Homo sapiens: one gene and its partners. The protein of the gene in region 3 purifies or fractionates together with the protein of the main gene of each other region. This does not show direct contact. Each region holds a gene or a part of one and is shown on either strand. Other genes may lie near its edges. The genes, in order: FASTKD1, INTS2 and P2RY10.

Region 1 (7,347 bases), on a different chromosome or scaffold from region 3:
TTTTAATATACTGATCATTGCTATGTAACAGCACCAAGATAAGGAAACAACATCATTAGTTCTTTTCATGTTCTCTTCTAGTCCTCTCACCCAAAAAGGATCTTGACCTCTAACACCATAAATTGTTTCTATAGAAATGGAATCCTATAGTATGTACCCTTATAGTTTAGTTTGCTCAGTATGTTTTAAGGATTTATCCATTATGTTGTATGATTCCATAATTTTATTCTATTGTATGAGTATGTGCAGTTTATCCATTGTACTCTTGATGGACATTCGGGTTTTTTGCAGGGTTTTGCTATTACATATGTGTTGCTGTGAATTTTCTTATGCTTGTTTTTTAGTGAATTCAAAGTCATAAAATCTATAACAGTTCCTTTTTCCTCTCTTTTGTCTTGCCATTTTCTTGTTGAAGAAATTGGATTATTTCTCCTATTAAAAAAATTCATAGCACTGTTGTAGTAGCAGCCATTATATTTGTTAATATGCAACCTTGAGTCAAAATTGTTCTGTCATCTAAAAAAATTAAGTAAATCATTCAAATAATTTTTAGTGATTTTCCCCCTTTCAAAACCTTTCTACAGTATCTGACTTTTTAACTGTTGCCATGTTACTTTTATAATAATAACATTTTAGAAAAAAAATTTTATGTAATTTACTATTTTGATTGCTTTTAATTTTATAACTATATATTATGTGTTTTAAGTGAAAGTAAATACTAATGTTCTCCTTTGTATATTTCCTTTAATAGGTTTGATATTAAACTGCTCTCAGAATTTTCCTCTTGCCTAGCAGATCAGCATTTGTATTTTAGTCCATTAATGGGAAAAATAGCTGATATTGTTCATAGGAACTTGGAAACCACACAGGACTTAAGGTAAATTTATTTAGGGAATCTTGTGTTGTGGTGGAAAGATCCTGGGCTTTGGATGTGGATGCAGTCAGATTTGCTACTCTTAGTTTATGTGACTTAAGGTTACTTAAGCTCTTGGAAGTTCGTTATCCTCATCTGCAAAAGAGGGATAGTAATAGCTACTTTGCAATATTGCTGTGGGGATTAGACATAAGGTACATAAAGTGTAATACAATATTGTTGAGGTCTGTGGAGGATCTGAGTTTTTACCTATTTGCAAGCTAAGTTTGCCTGCCACATTTTCCTACGTGTGCCGTAGGAAGGCCTGAGACTCCGAGGTCAGAGAGAGGACTTTGTTTTTTATAGCAATAGCAGTAGCAGAGTACCAGAATTTTCTTGTGTTGATTCCCTGAGCTCTCGTTCCCATAATGGGTTGTGATCCAGGAGAGGAGCTCTGAGCTTAGGAAACCTGAATCTTTTATAATAAAGCATGCCTACTCTGCTCCAACAGGAGACATTATCTCTATTCTCCTAGGCTGTTTGCTATGCAAACATCCTTGAAAAGATAGTTCTGAACAAAGGCAGTCAGAAACCCACTGAAAATGGCCTCTGAATAAGTATCTAGAACATAGAAGTTTCTCAGTAATGGATAGTAGGTATTATTATTATATCATGAAGTAAACCCAAGAAGTATTTAAATTAAGTATGAATTCATTGGCCAGGCATGGTGGATCACACCTGTAATCCCAGCACTTTGGGAGGCCGAAGTGGGTGGATCACTTGATGTCAGGAGTTCGAGACCAGCCTGGCCAACATGGCAAAAATCCCATCTCTACAAAAAATACAAAATTAGCTGGGCATGGTGGCGGGCGCCTGTAATCCCAGCTACTCGGGAGGCTGAGGCACAGGAATTACTTGAACCTGGGAGGTGGAGGTTGCAGTGACCTGAGATTGTGCCACTGCACTCCAGCCTGGGCAACAGAGCAAGACTCTGTCTCAAAACAACAATAACAAAAAACGAAAAAAAAACAGTAACAAAACTTGAAACAACAACAACAAAATCCAAAAAAACCAAAAAATAAATTAATAAATAATTAATTTACAATAAATTAATAAATAATTAATTTACAATAAATTAATAAATAATTATTTTACAATAAATTAATAAATAATTATTTTACAATAAATTAATAAATAATTAATTTACAATAAATTAATAAATAATTAATTTACAATAAATTAATGAATAATTAATTTACAATAAATTAATGAATAATTAATTTACAATAAATTAATAATTAATTTATAATAAATTAACAAATAATTGATTTACAATAAATAAATAATTTATAATAAATAATTTACAATAAATTAATAAATAATTATTTTACAATAAATTAATAAATAATTTACAATAAATTAATAAATAATTTACAATAAATTAATAAATAATTTACAATAAATTAATAAATAATTTACAATAAATTAATAAATAATTTATAATGAATAATTAATTTATAATAGATTAATAATTAATTTATAATAGATTAATAATTTATAATGGATTAATTTATAATTAATTTATAAACAAATTCACAAATTTTACATACAATTATGTCTTTTTTATTCTTTCCATCTGGGAATACTTTCTTTTCAGTTTCATAAAGGAGAGTTAATAGTTACATTTGCTGAATGTCAAGGAACTATTAATTTGAAACTAACATTTAAGGAGTTTCTCTGGTTTTCATACCAGTGGTTTGAGGGTTTGTTTTGTTTTTAACATAAGATTACTTACTGTCAATGCTAACCTTCATAATCCAGTACTATGATTGTCTTTGGCGTTTCAGATACAGCTTTTTCTCTCATATTTACAAAGTGATTAGCACTTTGGTAAAATTAAATTATAGTAGTTTCCTGCTCTTCTTGCCCCACTCCACCCTACTTCCCTGCCTTTTTTTTTTTCTTTTGAGATGGAGTCTCCCTCTGTTTCCCTGACTGGAGTGCAATGATGCAACCTCTGCCTCCTGGGTTCAAGCGATTTTCCTGCCTCAGCCTCCTGAGTAGCTGGGATTACAGGTGCTCGCCACCACATCCAGCTAATTTTTATATTTTTAGTGGAGATGGGGTTTCACCATGTTGCCAGGCTGGTCTCAAACTCCTGACCACAAGTGATCTGCCCACCTCGGCCTCCCAAAGTTCTGGGATTACAGGCATGAGCCACCATGCCCAGCCCCTTGCCTTTTTTTTAAAAAAAATACACTTATGTGGCTGGGTGCAGTGGCTCATGCCTGTAATCCCAGCACTTTGGGAGGCTGAGGTGGGAGGATTGCTTAAGCCCAGGAGTTTGAGACCAGCCCTGGCAACATAGCAAGACTCTGTTTCTACAAAAAAAAAAAAAAAAAAAAAAAAGAATTGATCATTCTTAATTGATGTAAAAATCTTTGCATCTTTTTTCTTTTTCAGTTCCTTGTCTGTCTTGATGGTCAACATATCTTCTTTAATATCACGACATTTTCAACAACAACTGGTGAACAAAACAGAACTTCTTTTTGACACCATAGATTCTTCTGAGGTCAACGTTGCAAAAAGCATAGCAAAGTTTCTTCGAAATGTTAGATATCGTTATCAACCACTATTAGAAAGATGTAATAACGTATTTTTAAGTAATGTGGACCACCTTGATTTGGATTCCATCAGTAAAATACTTAGTGTATACAAATTTCTACAATTTAATAGTTTTGAATTTATTATAATGGCTAAAAAGAAGCTAACTGAAATGATTCCTCTGTGTAATCATCCTGCTAGCTTTGTAAAATTGTTTGTAGCATTGGGACCCATTGCAGGACCTGAAGAAAAGAAACAGTAAGTTCAGTTTAAAATGCATTACTTTTTTTGTTGTGAATACGTGGAGCCTTCAAGCTTAGGTCTCCTTGCAGCTCTGGAAGGTACAAATATCACCCTATTAGGTTGTGGAAGGGAAAATAATCTCTTATGCTCTGCTCCTTGATTCTTTTTCTGATTATTCTAATTTACATCTCAAACTCTTAGTCTGTTGCTGTGTTCTGAAAGGTAAACCTCTGATACTGGGCCAACATGAAAAAAAATGAGGGGAAACGCCATGTGTTTTTATTCTCCCTTTTGTGCTACATGACTGGATTTACACATATAAGACTCCCCCACCCAGTGTAAGTCTGTGGAATATTTAGAATTATAGTAGTCATAGCAGAGGGCCATTTTATGCTTTGCTGTCTTCATCACAATAATCATCAAAGCATTTATTATGCACTGGGCATATGTTCCCATGTCAGGTTTGAGCAAATTTTGTGTGGCGCCTCTCATTTAGGAATTTCCAGTTTTGCTAGATACTGATGTAGGTAGTAATATTTGAAATATAATGATGAGCAAATATTAAATTAACATACAAATACGGTTAATAGATAAGAGTTTCTCTTCCTAGGCCATGTGACTGGATTTATACTAGACATAAACTTCCCCCACCCAGCATAATTGTATGAAATATTTAGAATTACAAGCTGGGCACGGCGTTGCACGCCTTTAATCCCATCACTTTGGGAGGCCGAGGCAGGTGGATCCCTGGATCCCAGGAATTTGAGACCAGCCTAGGCAAGATGATGAAACCTTGTCTGTACAAAAAAATACAAAATTAGCCAGATGTGGTGGTGCCCACCTAGATTCCCAGCTACTCATGAGGATCACCTGAGCCCAAGGAGGTTGAGCCTGCAGTGAACTGACATTGCGCCATTGAATTCCAGCCTGGGCACAGAATGAAACCTTGTCTCAAAAGAAAAAATAAAAGAAAAAAATAAGAATTTTATATAATAGTCCTAACACATAAGTATGATTAGTAGATTCACTTAAGCAGGGGTTCCAAGACTTGCACAATAGGGGAATCTGTATCATTACTCTGTTAGGGAAAACTTTACGGAGAAAGTTTTATTTTTTAAGAGTACTTTGTGGCTGGGTGCGGTGGATCATGCCTGTAATCCCAGCACTTTGGGAGGCCAAGGCAGGTGGATCACCTGAGGTCGGGAGTTCAAGACCACCCAGACCAACATGGAGGAACCCCGTCTCTACTAAAAATACAAGATAAGTCGGGCATGATGGCAGCGCCTGTAGTCCCAGCTACTCGGGAGGCTGAGGCAGGAGAATCGCTTGAACCCGGGAGGTGCAGGTTGCAGTAAGCCAAGATCGCGCCATTACACTCCAGCCTGGGCAACAAGAGCGAAACTCTGACTCAAAAAAAAAAAAAAAGTACTTTGAATTATATGAAAAAATTTAAGAGCACATCTTAAGACTATATCAAGATGGAAACAAGGTGATTATTAAAAAAAACTATTGGGGCCCAGCACGGTGGTTCACACCTGTAATCTCAGCACTTTGGGAGGCCAATGCTGGCAGATCACTTGAAGTCGGGAGTTTGAGACCAGCCTGGCCAACATGGTGAAACCCCGACTCTACTAAAAATACAAAAAAAAAGGGCCGGGTGTGGTGGCTCATGCCTGTTATCCCAGCACCTTGGGAGGCTGAGGCGGTTGGATCACTTGAGGTCAGGAGTTCGAGACCAGCCTGGCCAACATGGTGAAACCCCGTTTCTAGTAAAAATATAAAAAATTAGCCGGGCGTGGTGGTGGGCACCTGTAATCTCAGCTACTTGGGAGGCTGAGGCAGGAGAATCGCTTGAACCTGGGAGACTGAGGTTGCAGTGAGCCAGGATTGCGCCATTGCACTCCAGCCTGGGCAACAGGAGCGAAACTCTGTCTCAAAAAACAAACAAAAAAATACAAAAAATAATTAGCCGGGAGTGATGGCAGGTGCAATGGTGGGCATCTCTAATCCCAGCTACTCTGGAGGCTGAGGCAGGAGAATCGCTTGAACCTGGGAGGCGGAGGTTGCAGTGAGCTATCATGCTCCTGCACTCCAGCCTGGGCAACAGAGTGAGACTCCATCTCAAAACAGACGAAGAAACACACACACGAACAAACTTTATTGGAACCGTTTTTTGTCACCAAGTACTGTTAAAATCTCAGTGCTAAAGCAATAAAACAGTTGGGTTTAACTGAGTCTGTCTTCAAGGAATTTATATTGCAATTGAGAGGATAGATATAATTGAAATATGTAAATACTGTAACAACATAGTTTATGAAGAAACAATAAAATTAGTGATATGGATAGTGCTGTGAGCAGACAGAAGTGAGAGAAAAATATAGACTGAAGTGGTTGGGAAAAGTTTGTGGAGAAACTGGGTTTGAAACCTTTGAAAAGGTTGGTGGAAAGGATGGCATGGAGTTATCCATGTGAATAGACAATTAGTTTATCCTATCAGATGTCACGTTTCGAGCTTGCTTTCTAAATGATTCTAAAAAATACACGTATCATGGTACTTAACATTACTGCACTACTTTGGATAGTTCAAATGACAACTAATCATAGTCAAAATGGACCAGCTTTGTTAATTTTCAGTTTATACTGTTATATCAAGTGCTTAGTATATGAGATTTCTGATAATATGCAGGTTTATTGACTCCTAGATGTTCCTATTCAGTTTTAAAACATTTGGGAAATTGTCAGAATATCAACTGTTCATTTCTTAGCTCTCTAGTATTGAATAATTTCACTGAATCATAGTATTTTATAACCATTATAACCTTGTATTATTTGAAAATCTTAAAATATCTTTTACCTGTATTTTTCAAACAGTTTAAGATTGGATTATAATGAGGCCTGAATTTCATTGAAGAAGACAATATATTTTTCTTTATTCAGTAATATTTTATATTCGAGTAATGTGGGGAGAACACTAGAATTATATATTGGATTCAGTTTTTGTTTATATTTTTTTTCCTATTTGTTACCCAAGAACTGTTATTTAAAAAAAATTGCAAGCTAATTTTCAGTCTTTCAACCAAAAACTTTTTTTTTTTTGCTTCTAGACTTAAATCAACTATGTTATTGATGTCAGAGGACCTAACTGGCGAGCAAGCCCTGGCAGTGTTGGGAGCAATGGGAGATATGGAAAGCAGAAACTCATGTCTGATTAAAAGGTATCTTTTCTGAAATTTACGACGTTAAGTTTGTTGTCATTCACAAGCACCTATTTTTTTCTAAGGAAAAATGGTTTTCTTCTTTAATCTACCAGTTGTTTTGAAGAAATAAGGAATTAATGCTTAAGCCACTGTTTATGTTCTACTTTGTTTTTCTTTTCTTTTTTTTTTTGTTTTTTTGAGACAGAGTCTCACTCTGTTGCCCAGGCTGGAGTGCAGTGGCACTATCTCTGCTTACTGCAACCTCTGCTTCCCTGGTTCAAGCAATTCTCTTGCCTCAGCCTCCTGAGTAGCTGGGACTACAGGCGCCCACCACCATGCCCCAGCTAATTTTGTTTGTTTGTTTGTTTGTTTGTTTTTGAGACAGAGTCTTGCTCTGTTGCCCAGGCTTGAGTGCAGTGGTGCCATCTCGGCTCACTGCAACCTCTGCCC
Region 2 (4,463 bases), on a different chromosome or scaffold from region 3:
AACTGGGTGTTAGGGATTCAGTAATGTGAAAATACATATGAATGAGCAAAGATGAAGTAATTTACTGTTAAGACAATGAAAGGAAGGATAATGTTTAAAAATAAATCCTTAAAAATACCTTCAAATTGTCATTTCTCTTTTATAATTTTTAAAACATCAACTCTTGGCCGGGCGCAGTGGCTCACGCCTGTAATCCCAGCACTTTGGGAGGCCGAGGCAGGCGGATCACCAGGTCAGGAGACCAAGACCATCCTGGCTAACACGGTGAAACCCCGTCTCTACTAAAAATACAAAAAATTAGCCGGGCGTGGTGGCGGGCGCCTGTAGTCCCAGCTACTCGGGAGACTGAGGCAGGAGAATGGCGTGAACCCAGGAGGCGGAGCTTGCAGTGAGCCGAGATGGCGCCACTGCACTCCAGCCTGGGAGACAGAGCGAGACTCCGTCTCAAAAAAAAAAAAAATCAACTCTTTTGAGTAACTGCTCTAGTATAACTACTCTCATTTTCCTCTCCTAAATTACTAAGAGTTTCAACTGGCTCTCACCTTGCATTGCCATTTAATGTATGTGGCATAACAGAAAGGGATACACGTAGGCCCTGGAGCCATACAGACCTCGAATACAGTCCCTTGAACCGTTCCCTTCAGGTTAACTCTAGTGGAATGAAACACAAAAACTACAGGTTCGTTTGATAAAGAATATGAATGTTTATAAACCAATATTCAAAATAGCTGCACACATCTGTTTTCACTTGAATAAAAAAACACATTGTGACAAATTTTATAACCTTAACTTAAAATACATGAATATTAACATTTACTAATATATTTACACATTTTATTTACATCATCAACAAATCTGATGAAAAAGAGCATATGTGATTATTTTAACACAGCAGGTTATGACCAGTCTTTGAATATTGATCCAGGAATGTGCACTGCATTTAATTAGAAAACATACTTTTAACTTTTTCTGAACTCCTAGGGCATATCTATTCACACAAAATATCGCAAGGCCTCAGTTTAAAAAAAAAAGGAGCAGTTGTATTTAATCTTAAGGGACTACAAAACTGCCTTGTTTAAAAATATGAAAATTCTTATGCTATTTTTAAGATACTTTTATTACTTTTATTTTTCACATCAAAATTACTTAATTGAACATTAAGCATCTAATAAAAAGTTATAAATATTCTATCACATGTGATACTATGCACTTCATGATTTGAAACAGCTACAAACTCATTCTCATAGAATATGAGGTAGGGCCAGTAGTAACCCCATTTTACAAAGGAAGAAAATGAGATGTGACTATTTACTAGTGAAAAGGCTAAAGTTAAATTTCATTTCTCAAAAACTACACCTTCTTATTAGCCTAATTTCTTTTACAAGTGAAGCGGTCTGGCCAGGTGCGGTGGCTCACACCTGTAATCCCAGCACTTTGGGAGGCCAAGGTGGGCAGATCACCTGAGGCCAGGAGTTCAAAACCAGTCTGGGCAACATGGCAAACCCCCGTCTTTACTAAAAATACAAAAATACAGGTGGCGCGTGCCTGCAGTCCCAGCTACTCAGGAGGTTGAGGCACGAGAATCCCTTGAACCCAGGTGGCAGAAGTTGCAGTGAGCCAAGATCATCCCACTGCACTCCAGCCTGGGCAACAGGGGAAGACTCCACCTCAGGAAAAAAAAAAAAAAAACACAAGTGAAGAGGTCTGTTTCAAGTGGGGGTGGGGAAGTGTGTGATTGAGGTATATCTCAGAGAGAAAAAAGGGAATTACTTTCTACATTGATAATTTTTTTTTAATGATTAGGGTTTACCTGAATATGTCTGCCTAATCAATGGAAGTTACTGACAGAGGACTGCAAAATCCTTCGGCAAGACAATATTTTCTACACTTTAACTTTTCCTCAGGTTCAAACACTGCATTTTCTTACTCAAAGATCTTCTCAAAGTAAGATATGAATTATAATCCTGATGACAAACCAAGAGCTCTTTAATCCAGTGGGTTTTATTGCTCTACCTTCATTTAATTTGATACATATTTCCCCCCTCTGAGCATTAGGTAAGTTAATAAAGCATTATAAAAATAAATTTAAAACATAAAACTAAATGAGATCTCTCAGGTTCTTCTTTGAACAAAGATGTTTCTGTAAACACTTTTACACCAGTATCTTAAAATTCCAAATTATTCAAGTATCTCTTTAAACATATGGCTTCATATATTAATAAAAATTGAAGCAAATATGTGAAATCTTTAAATCCTCATCTGTATTTCCACAGAAATCATTTACAAAAGCTACTTGCCTTTTTAAAAGTCTTCTCAATACTCTTTCTTGAGAACTAGAATTCCAACTTGCATTACTATTACTTGCACTGCAAATCTTTGAGATTTCTACTTGTGTTTTTAACTCCTATTATTTCCTTAATTCTCCTTTCCCTTTACCCTTTTTTCCTCTCCCATCTTTGCATCTTTGTCACATTCTGTTACAAGCTCACAGTTAAAATAAACACTAGGGCTACCCACAGACTCATTTTTATAAGAAATTAAAGGCATGGCAGTCTTCACTTCAAAAGCTAAATACAAGGCCAAATTCCCTTTCCAATAATGAGTTTCTTACATGTGTTCCCAGTGGAAAAAAAAAAAGCTCAGCTGCTACAATAGAAACATATCAGCAAAGTAGATCCAAAGATGTGCCAATCAGAAACAAGCAAGCATAATTCTCATAAAGTTCTAAACTATACTCATGTTGAATTGAATTGTTTTAGTGATTCCAAGACAATACTTTACTGTTCCCATTCAGTTTAGAGTTGTTACTAATATGCAGATTCATGTTGGGTATATGCAGCAAACAACTTTTTGTTGTTTTAAATTTTGTTTTAAATTCCACTAACACTCATATTTATTATTTCAATTACTGTTCTTTCAATACAGTGACAGAGCTGTACATCAGGATCCATGCTTCCAGTGTCCCTGGATCCATTTTTATAAGATGAATCTTTACAGATTTGAGACCATCCACTTGGTTTCTCCTTTATTTGTTGAAGACCTACAACATAAGGGAAAAAAAACATTAAGGCCAAGAAATTTGGAAAGGAATTTGGCCTTTTTGTTTGAGATATTAAGATAACCCTTGAAAATAAGTTACCACTTACGTGTAATAATTGGATCAATGTCTCTTGTCTGAGTGGCAACATCAGAGGCACAAACTTGCCCTATTTGGATCAGCAAAGACATAATATCCTCATACAATGGAGGAAATGCTCGACAAAAAGAGACCAAACTTGGCAGAGTTGGCATAAAAAAAGCATACCGCTTAGCCTGTGTTAAAACTGTTGGAAAAAAATGAAACAATATTTTAGTTTACAAATATAAATTCAACACAGCTTACACAACATACTAAGGGGAACTATGCTCTGTGCTGGAGATATGAAGTTCTCTAAACACAGCCAACCCGTCTTCAGAAAGCTCACAATCTAGTAGTCTCAGTCTTTATCCAAGATACAAATTATTATGCACAAGTTTTGCAATAAGTACATTACATGCATTATTTCATTGAATTCCTACAATCTTATGAATGACCAAAGTACTATTATGACACTCATTTTATATATGAGAAAACTCTTAAAAAAAGGTTAGAGAGGTTAAGAAACTTGTTAAAGATCACAAGCCAGTTAGTGGTGGGGCTGAGATTGAATTCAGGCAGTGTAAACTCTTAATCACTACAAATAATTATAACAGGATATAAATACGATGAAAAGAAAAACAACAGGGTATTATGGAAATATTATAATGAGAAAGAATACTAAGTTAACTATGCCATTACATTAAGGGTTGCATTATAGTTCATATATTTTAAAGTAGTTTATTTTCAGACCATTTTATTCTACAAACCAGAAGGTGGTTAAAATATCAGAATATGTTTTAGAACTTATGAAGACATCTAATACATTTATCTTTCATTTATACATATGATGATATTTTTCTGGAACTCTGAGCATTTGTAATAAATGAACATTTGTTATCTACTGATACAATTACATTCTGAAAGTGTATTTGTTTTCCATTTATAAAATACAGAAAGCTTATATTTACAAATCTATATATACTCATTCACAAAATGAAAAATACAATTTGCCTACCTATTCATTCCCACTACACTATAAATCACATTTGTAAACAGAAGTTTCCAAAAGAAGAATTCAAAAGACGGCATAAGTTAAACTAGTATTTAACACATATTGTATCATACTGTCTCAGAGTGACAGAAAAAACATATTGCATCACTAAATGCAGAAAATATAGGAACTATAATAATTTATGTCAGATGTTTGTTGATGTTGATTGGCTACATACCTGTTAACAAAGTTCCCATGACATTGACAGCTAAACGAGCCACACTAAGTGACTTTGGTAATGCATATTGTATACACAAGTGAGAAAGCAACTGGATAGCAAATATCTGCAATACA
Region 3 (7,756 bases):
TTTCCTCTTTATTTGTACACAGAGTCATCTCCAAGGGCCTTTGGTTGGATCCTGTACATTTCTGGATTTAGAAAATCCCCTAAGAAGTGTAGTTGTAGCAGAGGACTAGAATATCTAGAGCAGTAATTTTTAAAGTTAAAGGGTAGAAAATAAGTGTTACTTGATAAAACATATTCCTTATTATAACAAATATATTTGGAAAACAAAATAAAAAATGTCATTATTGTTTCTACAATACAAACTGTGAAAGTACAGATCTACAAAATCCTCTTAACTGTTGGGCACTTAGTACTTGGAAAATGTCAATGTGATGGAGCAGATTTTTCTACAAGTCCAGGGTCTGGTCCCTAGGAAGGCAAGTTCACAGTAACCTTGTAGTGAAATGTTTACGTTTCTCAAAGGGAACCTTGGGTTTAAAAGATTGAGAAATGCCAACTGAGTGTCATTGTCACTGTGGAAATTAGATTTCAGAAAGTTTTATCTTTTGTCTTGCATTTTCTCATTTTTAAAAAAGGGAAATTACTTACAAAGCATTTGCCTGTGGTCTAAAAGTTGAAGCTGTCATGATAACATTACCTGAAAGAAATATAATGGCAATTGGGAAAGGATACTCAGTTCTCTTGGAGATCTGAACTACATTTCCAGAATGTCCTCTCTAGATAGATTTCCCTATTATGGCCCCATTATTCACCACTCCATAACATTTAACTATTCTTAGGTATCTAACAGTCTAACTCAAATCATTGGATTGCTAGGAAGGAAATTAGGAACCATCTATTCCAAGCCCTCTCCCATTATAATAGATGAGATTATTGAGATGCACAGAAATGAAATAACTCACCGAAGGCCACACCAGTCATTGGCAGAACTTGAACTATAACACAGACTTCTGACTCCTTATGTATTGATCTATCTATTTGATCACTCTACCTGTGATGTATATGAACTGATACTAGGAGAAAACTTCTCCACAAAATATACTGATCTGAAGAATAAATAAACCTTTTTGCCAAAAGCTTTTAAAATAAATCATAGACCACCGGGGAACCATTGCCCTGATTGTTAGTGCTTTTAGAAAGTCTCATTTTACTATAAACAGCTTTGTTCTCTTTGCTTGAGCCATGACAGAGAGCTATAGTATAGATAGGCAGCCTATCTTTTTTTTATTTTTTTTTTGAGCCAGAGTCTTGGTCTGTCTCCCAGGCTGGAGTGCAATGGCACAGTCTCAGCTCACTGCAACCTCCATCTCTCGGTTTCGAGCGATTCTCCAGCCTCAGCTTGCCCAGTAGCTGGGATTACAGGCGCCTGCCACTGCAACCAGCTAATTTCTGTATTTTTTAGTAGAAACGGGGTTTCGCCATGTTGACCAGGCTGGTCTCGAACTCCTGACCTCAGGTGATCCACCTGTCTCGGCCTCCCAAAATGCTGGAATTACAGCGTGAGCCACCAAGCCCAGCAGGCTGGCCTGTCTTTTAAAACCCCAACTCACTTATTTCAAACCAAAACAACCCATAAATGTGTTTATTCATTTGATGTCTTCAGATTTGAGTAGTCTGTACAACTTGAACTCTACAACTTTCCCAGTTGAGCCCCAAAATAAACTGCATTTGGCCAAAGAATCTGTGTTCAACAGGAACCATTGCAAAAACAATTGCCCCAAATGTGTGATCTGATTCTGACTGTAGTTTACACCATTTTCCACCTCAGTATATCTGCATATCACCTACTTTCATAAGTGGTTAATTTTACTGTGCTGCAATTGCTAAGAGATAGATTCTCCAATTAATATACATCATAATGACTCCACACATCCATTTGAACAACTGAAATAAAAATATTCTCACTTGCAGGATTCTTGGAACTGAGCCTACTCCCCTGGAAAGCACAGCCAAATCTGGTATCATTCTATCCAGCCTTATCCTGGTTCCAAATGATTTGGCACAGTCTCCCTTCAGGGACTCCTTAGCTGAAAGTCTCCTTTTGATTTAGTCATCTTAGCTCAGAAGGAGAGAGGTGCTAGTATTCAGAGTAATAGCAATAATAACTGAAAAAATGAGTGCCTCACTCATGGGCTTTGCTATCCAGTAAGGCTGAACTTCGGTCAAAATTAGCTTTCAAAGGATCAAGGAACCACTCTGACCAGACTCTGAAGTCATCTGGGATACTTTCTCCTTTCCTATCCTAAAAAATGGCAGGGTCACAAATAAATTTACAGTATTCTCTGGGAGATGCAAACTGCTGTAGGAAAAGGCAAACATGAGTTTAAAGACACAGGTCCTAGATCCACCTATACCACTAACAAGCTGAGTGAACCTAAGTGTCTTCACTTCACTGGCTCTCAGTTTTCCTGACTGTATTGTGAGGGATTTGGATCTCTATGGGCCCTTTCAGCCCCCAGAATCTATTACCCTGCTTTCTACTATTTGTCTCAGTATCTCTGAAAGCTAAATTTTCCAAAGCAAGGATTTTATACCCAAAAATCTTCCTTCACGATGCAGCTAGATAAATTATACACCATAAAAAATTAAATTGACTTTTATTGGCCGAATATGTCAAGTTGTCCCAATGAGTCTCACTGAATATACTCTTCTTACCACTTTGTGCCATCTTCTCTGGTCCCACTCTCTAAAGAGCCCTCATCAAAGAGTGAGCTGCATCACAGACTCCATGCTCCTGGCATAATGAAGAGGACTGATGGCATTAACGTTAACTTTGGACTCTGGTCAAACTCAACAGTAATTATCTTTGCTCCTGTTGTAAGATGTCTGAGATGAGAAACCAGTGACAATTTTAATACAGACACTGGCCCCACATCCACCTCTGTTCTGATTTTTATGATCACACCAATCTTCCCACATGAAACCACCAATCCCCAGGTGCTAGGCATTAACTTACCCTGGAGCTTAGCTGGGATAAGCACTCTTGTTTCTTTGCAGGGAGTAAAGGGTAGAAAGCTTTACTCTGGCGGCATGGATCCTGCTGATAACTGACACATTTGTTGTTGAAAGAGGAAGTTGAGTTTATCTGGTGTCTCACCACAGAAACCTTATTTGCACAAATGAAAGGTAAGTCCCTTGAGCAAATGACGTTACTCAAATTTTATTTCTTTTTATTTCATTGGTGCAGAGAAATTCAAATAGCAGGGAGTCAGAGGCTATGCATACTCACACAATGGCTATATAACAGCCTTCCTCACCCTATCTCCTTCCTTGACAACCGACATATCTAGATTTTCACTGATTCCAGTAGGTTCCATGGTAAGATGAAATTTTCAGGAAAATCTAAAGAGTGTTTACCTAGTAACAAGAAAGCTACAGCTTGTGCAAGCCTGAGGGGCAAAGGCTGAGGAAACCTAAAAAATACAAGTCAAAATTAGAAACAGTAGAAGTACCTTTGCTTAAGTTGTTCCCTCCATCTGGAGTGCCCCTCTCCCAACCCCTTCATCTTGAGGCTCACAATTTAACACATAGTTTCATTATTTTTGTATATTTATTATCCCTTTACTAGACTGCACACTGCTTGAGGGTAAAGATCATGTCTGATTCATATCTGTATTCCCAATTTGTCCAGCACAAGGCATTTTCATGAATTGTTATTGAATGAATACATATGGGAATTAATAAATAAACAAATGCTCAAAGAATGCATGAATAAGTAAATGAACATTATTGATTACGGGGTCTCCCTCCAGTGTACTAAAATTCTGGTTTTTATGTACAGTGTATATGGGGCCTTCAAAACTATGTGAATACAGGAAGATCATACACTTGAGGACTACAGTGTCAACTAAGTCTGAGAGTAGTTTTGAGAAACGAGGTTTAAAATGCAGCACAAACCCCTGTTGGCGTGTAAGGGAAAGAGAAGCTGACAGTATTGGAAACTAAGAGCTTGGGATGATTGATGGAAATGTCATAACTTGTGAAGACTGGCATCATCCTGGCTGATGTATGTCAAATGAAACAAGTTTAGCCTTTCAATCCCCTTCTTAATTTTGATTTCAAATGTTTATTCAGCTCCTATCTTTTGTTAATTTAGGTTTCTGAATTGGCATCCCTACTGAAAAGAGAATACACTGACAGACCAACACACATCTCAGTCCATTTGGCAGTTGTGTTCCTCCCTATGGTTAGTGTGAGCCAGTTTTCCTAGGGTAAGATTCTTCTCTGAACAAACAAAAAAATTCCAGACCTGTTGAGCTTTGAAGGCAAACCCTGGGATCCAGAAATACAAGAAATCCTTTTCTTACAACTGGCTATGATCACCACATCCCAACTTTATTTCACAGACAAAACCTTCACATTGCGAGAAGGAAACCTACCAGTTTACTTCATTTCTGTCTTGCACGCAAGCAGCTTCTTCTGTCACTGACCCTAAAAAGGGAAGAAAAATAAAACCAGAAGTCAGTGTCCCAATTCAAATGAAAAATTTTAACTCAGGTAAATTTTGAGTGTTAATTATTGATATGGTTTGGCTCTGTATCCCTTCCCAAATCTCATCTTGAATTGTACTCCCATAATTCCCACGTGTTGTGGGAGGGACTTGAAGGCAGTTCATTAGAATCATGGGGGCAGTTTCCTCCAGTTTCCTCCATACTATTCTCCTGGTAGTTAATAAGTCTCATGAAATCTGATGGTTTTATAAGGGGTTTCTGCTTTTGCATCTTTCTCATTTTCTCTTGCCACTGCCATGTAACAAGTGCCTTTTTCCTCCCACCATGATTCTGAGGCCTCCCCAGCCATATGGGACTGTTAAGTCCAATTAAACCTCTTTTTCTTCCCAGTCTCAGGTATGTCTTTATCAGCAGCATGAAAACAAACTAATACAATTATAATGAACAAATCTGTGGAGAAACAAAGCAAGCTGATAACCTAACAGTCATCTCCAATTAACTTTTAAAAGAAAGTCTTTTTGTTACTAGGTACGACTTATGGTTTACAAATCATTATAAACTAAAACAAAGTAATAAGTACCCTAATTATAAGATTCTTAAAAGTAGTGCAGTTGTACTATTTTACCAATAGTTCTAAATTCTTTCCTTATTCTTATGTATGTCATCAAAGTTTACTTTAAATGATGAATTATGTCTTCCATAGGCTGGGGAAAGTTTATGATTTGGTGCTTCAAAGGCTTTAAATTCTCTCTAACAGTATCAATAAATGAGGAGTGATAGCTATTGTTGAGAATGTTATTCATTACCATATATTGTGTTTCCTAGGTAACCCTAGAGCTCTATATGATTTAGTATGAGGAGAAGCTAGGTTTTTCCTAAGCAAATGGTTAAATTTTATTTTTATGAATACTGACTTTGTAATTGGTCATGTGTCTCTTTTTACAAAGTCTGATTAAAAATCATGAACCAACATAGAATCTACTGGTAGCAAGTGTGGAGATTTTTTATGGTGTGCTTTGTGGGATTCATTTTTATCATATCTCAATTTTTATGTCTTTGCCAATTTTGTCATTATTATTTTTTATCCACTTTAACTTATATTATCTTCTTATAACATTCTTCCTTTGAAACAACTTTCAGTCCTTTCTGGAACATAGTGGAATCCAAAAATGAAAAATAAAGGACAGAGTGAACTGTGAACCTCAATTCTTTTTAAATTAGAACTAGTGAAGCTAAATTGCTTTAGGTAAAATACCTTCAAGAGTTTTCCATGTCTGATTATATATCTGCAGAGTATTCCTATGCATTTTTGAAAACTAATCATTTAACAAATACTTAATGAACTACAACAATGAGAAATCTCTCCAAAGCTGTGGAGGAAGGCTGAGTTTGGGAAACAAAAAATATGTTTCCTATCCTCCAAGAGTCTACAGTTTATGTGACAAGTTAATTATTCATAAAATAGTTAGAAAATGAAGCACAGTACATACTTGACTGTTAAATTGTATGGAAATTAAGAAGATAAATTAACCATGGGCTGAACCTGTTGGAGAAGGTTTTCTGGTCCTTTCTTGATGGGCAAGTTTTGCTTTAAGCAGTGTTTCCCAGAGAATAAAATGTCCTAGTGGAGACATACCAAGATTTTTTTATTTTAGGTGGTACAAAGAAAAGCTTAAAAATTTAAAGCTATATATTTATTTTAAACCTTTAAAATATAATAAAATTATCCATACAAATTTATGATTTCTTAGATAATATTTCTTAAGAGGAGGCTAAAGTAGGTAACTAAATTTTAAATACTGTGATTATTCACAAAAAACTACACAAAAACCCCACAAAACTATAGAGGGTATGCAAATAACAAAATCTGTGGAGAAACATTTGAGTGTCTGCAGTTTAGAAAATTTAAAGAGAGTAGAGAAGGCAAGAGATTCCAAGAGAGAGAAAGAATATTGCTGAGGACATGAATGGAGAATAAACATGTAGAATAAACATGTACTGTTTGTGTGAGAATGAGGGCAAGATTTTGTCTGACCCATAAGGCATGCTGGAAACAGAGGGAAAGAAGCTTGGAGGATGGAGTTCTACAAAAATGCCTTAGAGTATAGAAGCCATGGAATACAGGAAGTAATTGAAAGGATATAAACAGAGTCGGAGGAGGGAAAATAAAATTATTAGTTACTGAGTACTTTCCATGTCCTATCACCATTCTAGGCAATTCGCCCACATCATCTAATTTAATTCATCAAACAATCCTATGGAGTAGGGACTAATATTATCTCCCATTTTCTGCATTAATGAATTCAAGCACAGAGAAATTAATTAACTTCCCAAAGATTGTAAACAAGGAAGTGGGAGAGGCAAGATTCAAATTCATATGTGCCTTGCTCAACAGCCTGCTTCCTTTCTACAATTCTTTGAATGATCACGGAGATAATAGTATACAGAATGGATTGCAGGAGGGGGCAAAACAGGAGGTGAAGATCTCTTTTAGAGAATAGACCATTACATTTGAGGTAATTAGAGCCTAGATTGGGACAATGACTGTAAGAATGAAGATAGAGAGTAGTTTCCAAAAAATATTTTTCTCAAAGAGCTCTTAAAACTGTAATCAGTAAAATGAAAGAGGAAATGAATTTTCACGAATAGGAATAAATAAATCTTTCAAGGGGTTCATTTTTTGCATATTTTCCATTAAGACTTTTTTTGAGTCATATGATGAAGTATATCTTCTTTCAGTGAGAAAAACATACTTTGTAGCTGGAAGAGAGGTTCTTTTTTCTGAACCCAGAGGCTCGTTTTGGAGACAAGTTTACCACTTGGCCAGTTCTTGAGGGTCCCTGTGCAGAATCTATAGTCTTGACAAGGAAAATGATTCACATAATATAAATTTTTAATGAATTCTGTTTCAGAAAATTTTCATAAGAAAAGATTTTATTCAGTCAAATAACTGGCCATTTGGGTCAATGTGCTGTGTATTAACCAGAAAAATGAGATTTCAATAAATTCTAGGTGATCTCTTTGATGCCCATTTAGTCAAAGCCATAAACAATGAGCAAGACGCCAAGGAATGAGGCAAAGAATGGGATCTCTTGTCTCAGTTTCACACTTCAGGCATTGTGCTATGAGACTTATTAACTTTCATATGTGTCACCAGGATTGATCATTGGGAAAACAGTGGAATAGGTGAAGACTGTATTTGCACCCTATCTTCCCTGACTAGCCTTTTTGTTCAGCATTCTTCTCAAGGATATGGTATGCTTCCAGACCCTCTGGGTTCCCGTTCTTACAAAATAAAGTGATCAGAGTAGGCTCTTCATACTAAAATAGAAAAAAGTATTTAGGAAGAGGACACTACAAACACAG

What was found.
Region 1: the proteins of P2RY10 (region 3) and FASTKD1 purify together in Homo sapiens (co-immunoprecipitation; 2 studies listed by BioGRID and IntAct, with this or other methods). This does not show direct contact.
Region 2: the proteins of P2RY10 (region 3) and INTS2 purify together in Homo sapiens (co-immunoprecipitation; 2 studies listed by BioGRID and IntAct, with this or other methods). This does not show direct contact.

Annotation. Positions count from the first base shown.
Region 1 is NC_000002.12:169,556,755-169,564,101, reverse strand, and holds part of FASTKD1 (FAST kinase domain-containing protein 1, mitochondrial), read left to right. Parts: intron 1-751; coding exon 752-877; intron 878-3,316; coding exon 3,317-3,715; intron 3,716-3,721; exon of another isoform or gene 3,722-5,178; coding exon of another isoform or gene 5,179-5,189; intron 5,190-6,804; coding exon 6,805-6,915; intron 6,916-7,347. UniProt on the Homo sapiens protein: Involved in the down-regulation of mitochondrial MT-ND3 mRNA levels which leads to decreased respiratory complex I abundance and activity.
Region 2 is NC_000017.11:61,864,687-61,869,149, forward strand, and holds the end of INTS2 (integrator complex subunit 2), read right to left. Parts: intron 4,454-4,463; coding exon 4,348-4,453; intron 3,324-4,347; coding exon 3,147-3,323; intron 3,041-3,146; coding exon 2,871-3,040; 3' UTR 681-2,870; downstream 1-680. UniProt on the Homo sapiens protein: Component of the integrator complex, a multiprotein complex that terminates RNA polymerase II (Pol II) transcription in the promoter-proximal region of genes.
Region 3 is NC_000023.11:78,940,635-78,948,390, reverse strand, and holds the start of P2RY10 (putative P2Y purinoceptor 10), read right to left. Parts: upstream 3,001-7,756; 5' UTR 2,896-3,000; intron 2,674-2,895; exon of another isoform or gene 2,608-2,673; coding exon of another isoform or gene 2,595-2,607; intron 579-2,594; exon of another isoform or gene 577-578; coding exon of another isoform or gene 528-576; intron 1-527. UniProt on the Homo sapiens protein: Putative receptor for purines coupled to G-proteins.